2 linked regions of the Homo sapiens genome follow. The protein of the gene in region 2 interacts with the protein of the main gene of each other region in a pairwise test. Each region holds a gene or a part of one and is shown on either strand. Other genes may lie near its edges.

The links.
Region 1: the proteins of KATNIP (region 2) and KATNBL1 interact in a two-hybrid assay, tested with the Homo sapiens proteins (one large-scale study listed by IntAct).

The regions. Positions count from the first base shown.
Region 1 is NC_000015.10:34,139,869-34,144,109, reverse strand, and holds the end of KATNBL1 (KATNB1-like protein 1), read left to right. Parts: intron 1-1,738; coding exon 1,739-1,771; 3' UTR 1,772-3,436; downstream 3,437-4,241.
Region 2 is NC_000016.10:27,752,420-27,756,237, reverse strand, and holds part of KATNIP (katanin-interacting protein), read right to left. Parts: intron 2,066-3,818; coding exon 1,987-2,065; intron 1-1,986. UniProt on the Homo sapiens protein: May influence the stability of microtubules (MT), possibly through interaction with the MT-severing katanin complex.

The sequences.
Region 1 (4,241 bases), on a different chromosome or scaffold from region 2:
TGGAAGACCATGGCCCCTCTCCCAAAAAAAAAAATTTCTCAGATACCTTCAAAAAAAAGAAGCAAAATGATATATCAACCAAGTTTGTTACCACTGTGTGGGATTTTACTCTATAGAATTCTTTTTTTTTTTTTTTTTTTTTTGAGATGGAATCTCGCTCTGTCGCCCAGGCTGGAGTGTGGTGGCGCAATCTCGGCTCACTACAAGCTCCACCTCCCAGGTTCACGCCATTCTCCTGCCTCAGCCTCCCGATTAGCTGGGACTACAGGCGCCCACCACCATGCCTGGCAATTTTTTTTTTTTTTTTTTTTTTTTTGTATTTTTAGTAGAGACAGGGTTTCACCATGTTAGCCAGGATGGTCTTGATCTCTTGACCTCATGATCCACCTGCCTTGGCCTCCCAAAGTGCTGGGATTACAGGCGTGAGCCACTGCGCCTGGCCTATAGAATTCTTAATGATGAAAATCTTATGAACATATCAATCTCCTAGAAAGTTTTTGTTGTTGTTTTAGGTTTTTAGAGCATACATGACGTATTACCTTGCTCTAAAGGGTTGTTGCATTCTGTATAGAAGAACTAAAAAATGATTGTTCCTTATGACTGAAATTTGCTTTCAATCAGAATTTTTTTTGTTGTTTTTGTTTTGAGACTGAATCTCGCTCTGTCGTCCAGGCTGGAGTGCAGTGGCACAAGCTCAGCTCACTGCAACCTCTGCCTCCTGGGTTCAAGTGATTCTCCTGCCTCAGCCTCCCGAGTAGCTGGGATTACACACATGCCTGGCTAATTTTTGTATTTTTAGTGGAGACGGGATTTCACCACGTTGGCCAGGCTGGTTTCGAACTCCTGACCTCAAGTGACCCACCCACCTCCCCCTCCCAAAGTAATGGGATTACAGGCGGGAGCCACCACACCCGGCCACAATCAGTTTTTTACAAAGGGAAAAGCTTTATTGTGAATATGACTTTAAGGTACCATTTATTATTGGGGACAATATTGAGTGATTAAAAGTTCAATGCGAAGTTCCTTATGATGAGACTTTCTTACAAAATTAAACCATCAATTAATTTGTAATTTTTTGAGTATAGAAATTGAAAGAAGAGGGCCGGGCAAGGTGGCTCATGCCTGTAATCCCAGTACTTTGGGAGGCCAAGGTGGGCAGATCACGAGCTCAGGAGATCGAGACCATCCCGGCCAACATGGTGAAACCCCATCTCTACTAAAACACAAAAAATTAGCCGGGCGTGGTGGTGCACACCTGTAGTCCCAGCTACTTGGGAGGCTGAGGCTGGAGAATCACTTGAACCCTGGAGGTGGAGGTTGCAGAGAGCCAAGATCACGCCACTGCACTTCAGCCTGGTGACAGAGCAAGACTCTGTCTCAAAAAAAAGAGAAAGAAATTGAAAGAGGCTATTGTCAAGCTGGGCTCAAGTGAATATAGCACTGATAGTAAACAGCACTGATAGAATTTCTGTGAATGTTAGCTATGAAAGCAGAGTTGTTTGAGCATAGGAACCAACACATTCATTTAGCACTTAGCAAATATATATTGAGCACATACTATGTGCCAGGCCCTGTGCTGAACAAATGCAGATAAAAGCACTGAACAAGGCACGTCTTTTACCCTCAAAAGGTCACAAAAGGAAACTAAGGCAAATTAAGCAACAACAAAAAAAAATGGATTGTTTATGTTTGTATTTACTGTACTGTCTAATGAAATGTTTTTGTTTTATCTTCTAAGGATGTAGATGCTTATTTATTACAGTTACATTGAGAGATTTCATCTACTAAAGAGCATTTGGTTTTTCAAAACATCCCTGAACTGTATAATTTACAAAAAAAAAAAGTCTCGTCTGAGAACTGTGAACTGTGGAAGAAATCAAAACTATTTTTTCTTTTAAAAAGCCACGTAATGAAACCACTAATGAAATCCCAGCAATCTGCTTCACATTGAAGTGGAAAAATATCCAAAAGGAGCAGCTTCAATTTCATTGAGGTGAAAGTGCACTATGAAGATTGTTCACCTTTGCTGCATTTGGGAGTTATATGGTTATTTGGTAACATTAAGAACTACTGGATTTTAATGCAATCCTGCATAAAAATATAATTTATACTATGTGAAAAAATAAGACAGGACTTACCACTAGGAACCACCAAGACCAATCATCATTAACTTTTTTAAGATTGTGTTTTATTAAAAAAAAAAAACACTTAAATGTGTGCAGCTATTTTCTTATGTTGAAAAGACTGAAAGTTTAAAACATGAAAAAAATCAATATTAAACATTTTTTGTTCACACTGAGATACTGTGTATGTAAAATGCCTTAATTATTAATAAGCCAATGTGTTATGATACCAATATCTGTTTTAAAAAACTAAAACCAACCATGCTTCTGGCATGATAAAATCATGGAATTAAATCAGGGGTTTACATTCTTGTAGAGTGTTCTTGAAACACTCTCTGCACCATTTTTAAAACTTGAGAATAGTTTTAGTATCTCTGATATTTTTTGCCAGAATCATCATGTCATGTATGAATGTGTTATCCCTATCTAAGGAAAAAGGTGAATATGTTTTTGTATGAATGTTTAACTGGAAATGTCCATGGACTTGGCTAATTTATATTTACTTTTTATTGTACATAGATTTCTAATATTTTTCATTCCTGTATCATTTAAACTTCCTTCATTTGAGTAAATTCACTAAATATTTCTATTTTTTGCTTTTTTAAATTCTGATTTTATATGAATTCTAATTCTTTTTCACTACATATGTTTTAAAGAGTTACATACAGTGATTTAGAATGGTTTACAGTTAATGCTGATCTTGTATTTTAAATTCCAACACTTTGTGTCACTACCTCCTCTAATGGTTAGTATGATATGCTAGCAGACTGTATGAGGTCTTTTTTTAAAATACCACTTTTAGTGTCAGTGAACCAAATTCTGGAATGTCTTAACAGCTCTAAATCTTACTTGTCTTGAAAATGATTGGGGTTTAATACCACTGCTGGTGGTTCACACATCATCCCATCCTTAATATGCCTGACAGGCATCTGAGCAAAGGTTTTTAGTAATTGAATTTCTCTGCAGTAGTCCTTCAAGCACTTGAATGTAAACCTTTAGCATTTATTCGTTTAATGACTACTGATACGAATCTCAAGCAGATTTCTTGCTCTTAAAAGTTATGTTTCACTGAGTTCTGGTTTTGTGTAGCTATATTTTATATAGCTAGATATTCCTCACAGTGAACATGAATTGTAATAATTGGTTATTTCCTTAAGTCTTTAGATTATAATAATTTCAGATTATTGCACGTCTGTGATTTGAGAGGTGAGTTATTTAAGAGGCCAGTTTTCAGGACATGGGAATTTGAATTGTAAACCTGTTATCTCTGTGAAACTTTTAACATGATAAAATATAACCTTTCTTTGTGCTTATTCCTGTAGTTATCACTGTCTTATGTAGCAGTTTGAACCAGTTAACTTGGTTGGAGTATGGTGCTAAAGAGGCCGTGGACAGGAGTTTGATGCTTTTGTAGGTTCATTAACTTTACATACACACAAAATGTTTTTATAGCTGTCGATTGCACCTTCCGTCAGGTATCCATCTCAGAAATTCAGGAAGATGGTATGTATAGCTTAGCATAAACCTTTCGCCTCAAATGGAAAGATTACTCAATGGGTATATGTGATACTGTAGACTTTTAATCTAACATTTAAAATAATAGATTCAAAATAAGATATCTAAAATACTGTGTAATGTTTAGTTTCAAAGTATTAAGTAATATTACATCAGATATTTTTCACATTTTTCTCTGGGTCAGATCATTGACTAAACAGTATCTTCAAAAATCAAACTTCAATAAATCAGACTTCAGAAAAATTAAGTACAAATGACATATAGTAAGAACAGGTATTATCTTGGTAACATTTATACCTAAATTTAGGTTTTTTGAAGGCATGTAGATAATACTTTATCTTACATACTCAGAGCTATATAAGTCAGCAGAGTTTTTAGCTGACAAAGATTATTGAGTAGCATATACTCCTAATTTCTGTTCTTGGCCTTTGCAGTTTCCTTAGTACCTACCCCTCTCAGTTATTGAATTGATTAGTATTAAGTGATTTTTAAGATTCTTGGATAAATGATATTAGATAAATAAGTATTTTTGAACACTTGTGTTGCTATTAAGCCCTTTCATGCTACAGCATTTTAATTAGAACAGTGTTGATCTCCAGGAAG
Region 2 (3,818 bases):
CACCTTCCTCTAAGGCACCTTCTAAGAGATCATTGGTCATTTTGGAGTAGGTGAAGGAGAGATGAATTTTCACAGGGGATGATAGAGAAGACTCCTGGGGAGGAGATGCGGTCGCAGAAGGGCCATAAGGGAGGGGATGTGGAGCTCACTTAGGGCACTGCTCAGACCCCACCTCCCACCCCCAGGAACAGAAGGACTTAGTCCTCTGGTGGCGGGAAGTGCTGACGGCTGGCAGCTCACCACTGAGGCTCTTGACTTGTGACTGCCCTTGGCTGAAGAGAGTCTCCTTGCAAAAAGCCATGTCCGGCTGGGCACAGTGGCTCATGCCTGTAATCTCAGCACTTTGGGAGGCCAAGGTGTGTGGATCACCTGAGGTCAGGAGTTCGAGACCAGCCTGACCAACATGGTGAAACCCTGTCTCTATTAAAATTACAAAAATTAGCCGGGCGTGGTGGTGGGCACCAGTAATCCCAGCTACTTGGGAGGCTGAGGCAGGAGCTCTCTTGAACCTGGGAGGCGGAGGTTGCAGTGAGCTGAGATCATGCCACTGCATTCCAGCCTGAGCGACAGAGTAAAACTGTGTCAAAATAAATAAATACAAATTAAAAAGTAAAATAAAAAGCCATGCCCCTCCCCAGGGGCAGCCCATAGCCAGTGCCATGTTGATACAGATAAAGACATGGCCCCTCACTCAACTCAGGATGACCCCAAAGGGCCATCCCAGGTTCCGAGCTCCCTGTGGAGCAGGCTGAGGCCTTGAAGTGGCTGAACCGCAGACCAGCTTCTCCCTCTGCCCAATCCTGCCTCCTACCCTTCCCTGACAAGAGCACACCCCAGGAAACTCCATCTCAGGGTCTGTGTCTAGGGAACCTAGCCAGCGACAGGTGGTCGTCAGAAGGCAGAGATGGAGCAGGGAGGCATCCTAGGTGGAAGGTGTGGCTTGCACAGGTGCCTGCAGGTGGACTCCAGAGATGGCATGGGGAGGTCCCGGAAGGGCTGACACCAGGATTCGGAGAGGCTCCAGCTTCATTTTGGAGATGAGGATGGGGAGGTGGGGAGGGGATCCTGACAGTGTCACATCTTTTGTCTCAGAAGATAAAGTAGAAGCGGGTCACATTCACAGGGGGCAGGAGAGAGCAGGAAGTGAGGCTGCCAGGAACCTGGTTAGCAGGGTGCAGGAGGGAGGAGATCACAATCAGCAGTGACCTTGGGCTTGAAGATTCCCCAGGACGGGGAGGGGCTGATGTGGACACGCATGGATGAAGAGAGGAACTGGCTGGAAGGATCAATGGAAAAGAAGGGTGAGGAACAGGCCCAGCAGAAAACCCCTGGGATTTGCTCAGAAGTCACAAACTGGCAGCCAGCTGGCCAGATACACAATAAGTGTTTTATTTGGCTCATGTGATATTTTAAAACATGAGAAAATTCGTTACACACATTTGAGAATCTGGAGACTTCACGTAAGACTCTAGATTTCCGACTTCTTCTGAAAAGTCAGAAGACCTGGTACCCTGGGCCTGTGCACCTGCCCCCACCCCCGGGGCAGAGTGGATGCAGGTTTTCTCTGCCTGTGCATCTACTCTTTGGTGGAGTTGGAAGAGACAGCTCGGGGCACTGCACCAACAGATGCCTTGGGTCTCTTCAGGCTCTAATGTCCTCTTGTTCTACACTTTCTGGGTGCCAACTACACCTCCTGGGTCAGGGTCATGGTCACAGCTAACACATAGGGTGTCTGCATGCAAAAATGCCCCTCAGGGAAGGCAAAATGCTAAGAGATGCCCCTCCTCTGGAGTGAGGTGGCCCTGCTAGGGCCAGGGAGCTGAGCGCAGGCTGGTTTCAGCCTCCACTTGCCCCATGGCCTGGTGTCTCTGTACAGTGTCCAACCCACCCGATTGTCCAGCGAAACCCTGTCCCAAGTGGCCACAACTCCCCCTGTCCCTGGAAGGTCCTCCTTCCACCCAACACTGCTCCAGGAGAGCTACTCACAGATTCCGTGGTAGATGCCTGGCTCTGGCGTGGTGACTTGGGGGACAGGGGAACTGGATGGGAGCTCTAGCTCCGGGATCTGCACATGGGTTGGAGAAGCAGAGGAAAAGGGGGTGGTTTTAGTGATACCCACACAGCTAGCTGGCTGGCTGTTTCTGCATTTACCACTGCCCACCCTATGCCCAGGTAAGTCCTTGTGTGTTTTCCTGGATTTTTCTGCCTTTGTGGAAGCTATGGGACCAGTGATATGGGCGGACCCTGACCCTCCAGGGTCTGCATCCTTGTCAGCAGCTCTCACTGGCTGGGGAGGAGCCTGATGCTAACAGCTAAGGTGTTTAAATTTCCTCCAACAGGGAAGGACTCAATAAATGCTTATGTGGTGAGCTAGAGGAAGAAAGAAAGGAAGGAAGGAAAGGAGGAGGAAGGGAAGAAGAGAAGGAAGGGAGAGAGGAAGGAAGGAAGGAAGGAGGAAAGGAAGGAGGGAAGGAGGAAAAGAAGGAAGGAGGGAGGGAGGGAGGGAAGGAAGGAAGGAAGGAAGGGGAAGTGGAAGAATTCAAACCATAGAGAGTGGCTCTTAACTTTGGCTGTTCACTGAAGCAGAATCTCTAGGGGTGGGGCCCAGACATTTTTAAAGATCCACCCAAGTGATTTCCACGGGTAGCCAGGATAAAAAATCCTGGTCTTCAGAGAGTCAACGGTGGGCCACCACACCCTTCTTGGGCCTTACATATAAACTATTTGCTCATTGTCTCTTTGCACCATAAGTGAAGGCGCTGGTCTCTCACGAGACTGAGAGAGTGATCCCCCCAGCCCCTCACAGCGCTGGGCCCATCAGAGTCCCTTACGAGCACCTTTGTCATTTGGAAAACGCTGGGCAAATGGAAGCGCCCAGGGTAGACTCCCACCTGGAGACCCCTGGGTCGAATCAGGAGCACAGGCACGGCTTGTGGCCCAAAAAAGGTTTGAACACATCTGAATTCACTGCCAGCATTTTTAAATGGAGAGGTTTTACAGAAAAATCCAGCTTTCTGGCTTCTCTTGTAAAAATCAGGAGAACTGGCAACAATGGGCTTGCCCCTCTTGGTGGCCGCTTTCCTTAGATGTGGGGAGGGGGAGGGGCACGCACTCCCCAGCTGCCTGTGCCTCCCCATGCCCTGCTCCTGCACCCCATGCTCTGCCTGGCTGCGAGGTACAATCCCCAGGGAACACCATGGGGTCCACACGACATGTTGCTGTCCTGCCTCAGTCATGACCTTCCCACAGCCCAGCCCCATCCCTTGTGGCTTGTGTTGTCCCCATTTCTCCCCTACCCTGTTTAACCATCTCCTCTTTTTCCTATTGGTCCTGACTTGAATTGACCTTGAAGGTCATCTTTCATTTTAAAAGATTTGTTTATCTGGCTAAGTGTGGCGGCTCTTGCCTGTAATCCCAGCACTTTGGGAGGCCAAGGTGGGAGAAGCGCTTGAGTCCAGGAGTTCATGACCAACCTGGGCAACATAGCAAGACCACATCTCTACAAAAAATAAAAAAAAAACTAGCCAGGCATGGTGGCATGCACTGTAGTCTCAGCTACTCAGGAGGCTGAGGTGGTAGGATTGCTTGAGCCCCGGGAGTTTGAGCTGCAATGAGCTATGATCACGCTAGTGTACTCCAGCCTGGGCGACAGTGCCAGGCCCTATCTCTAAACAAAATAAAAAAATAATAAGTTGCTTACCAATTAAAAGCATAAACTGTGGAATCACGCATTCAAGTTCTACCCTTGTTTCTCTGTCACAATGTGCCCTTGGGCAAGTCACTTGACTTCTCTGAGCATCAGTTTCCGAAATGGCAAT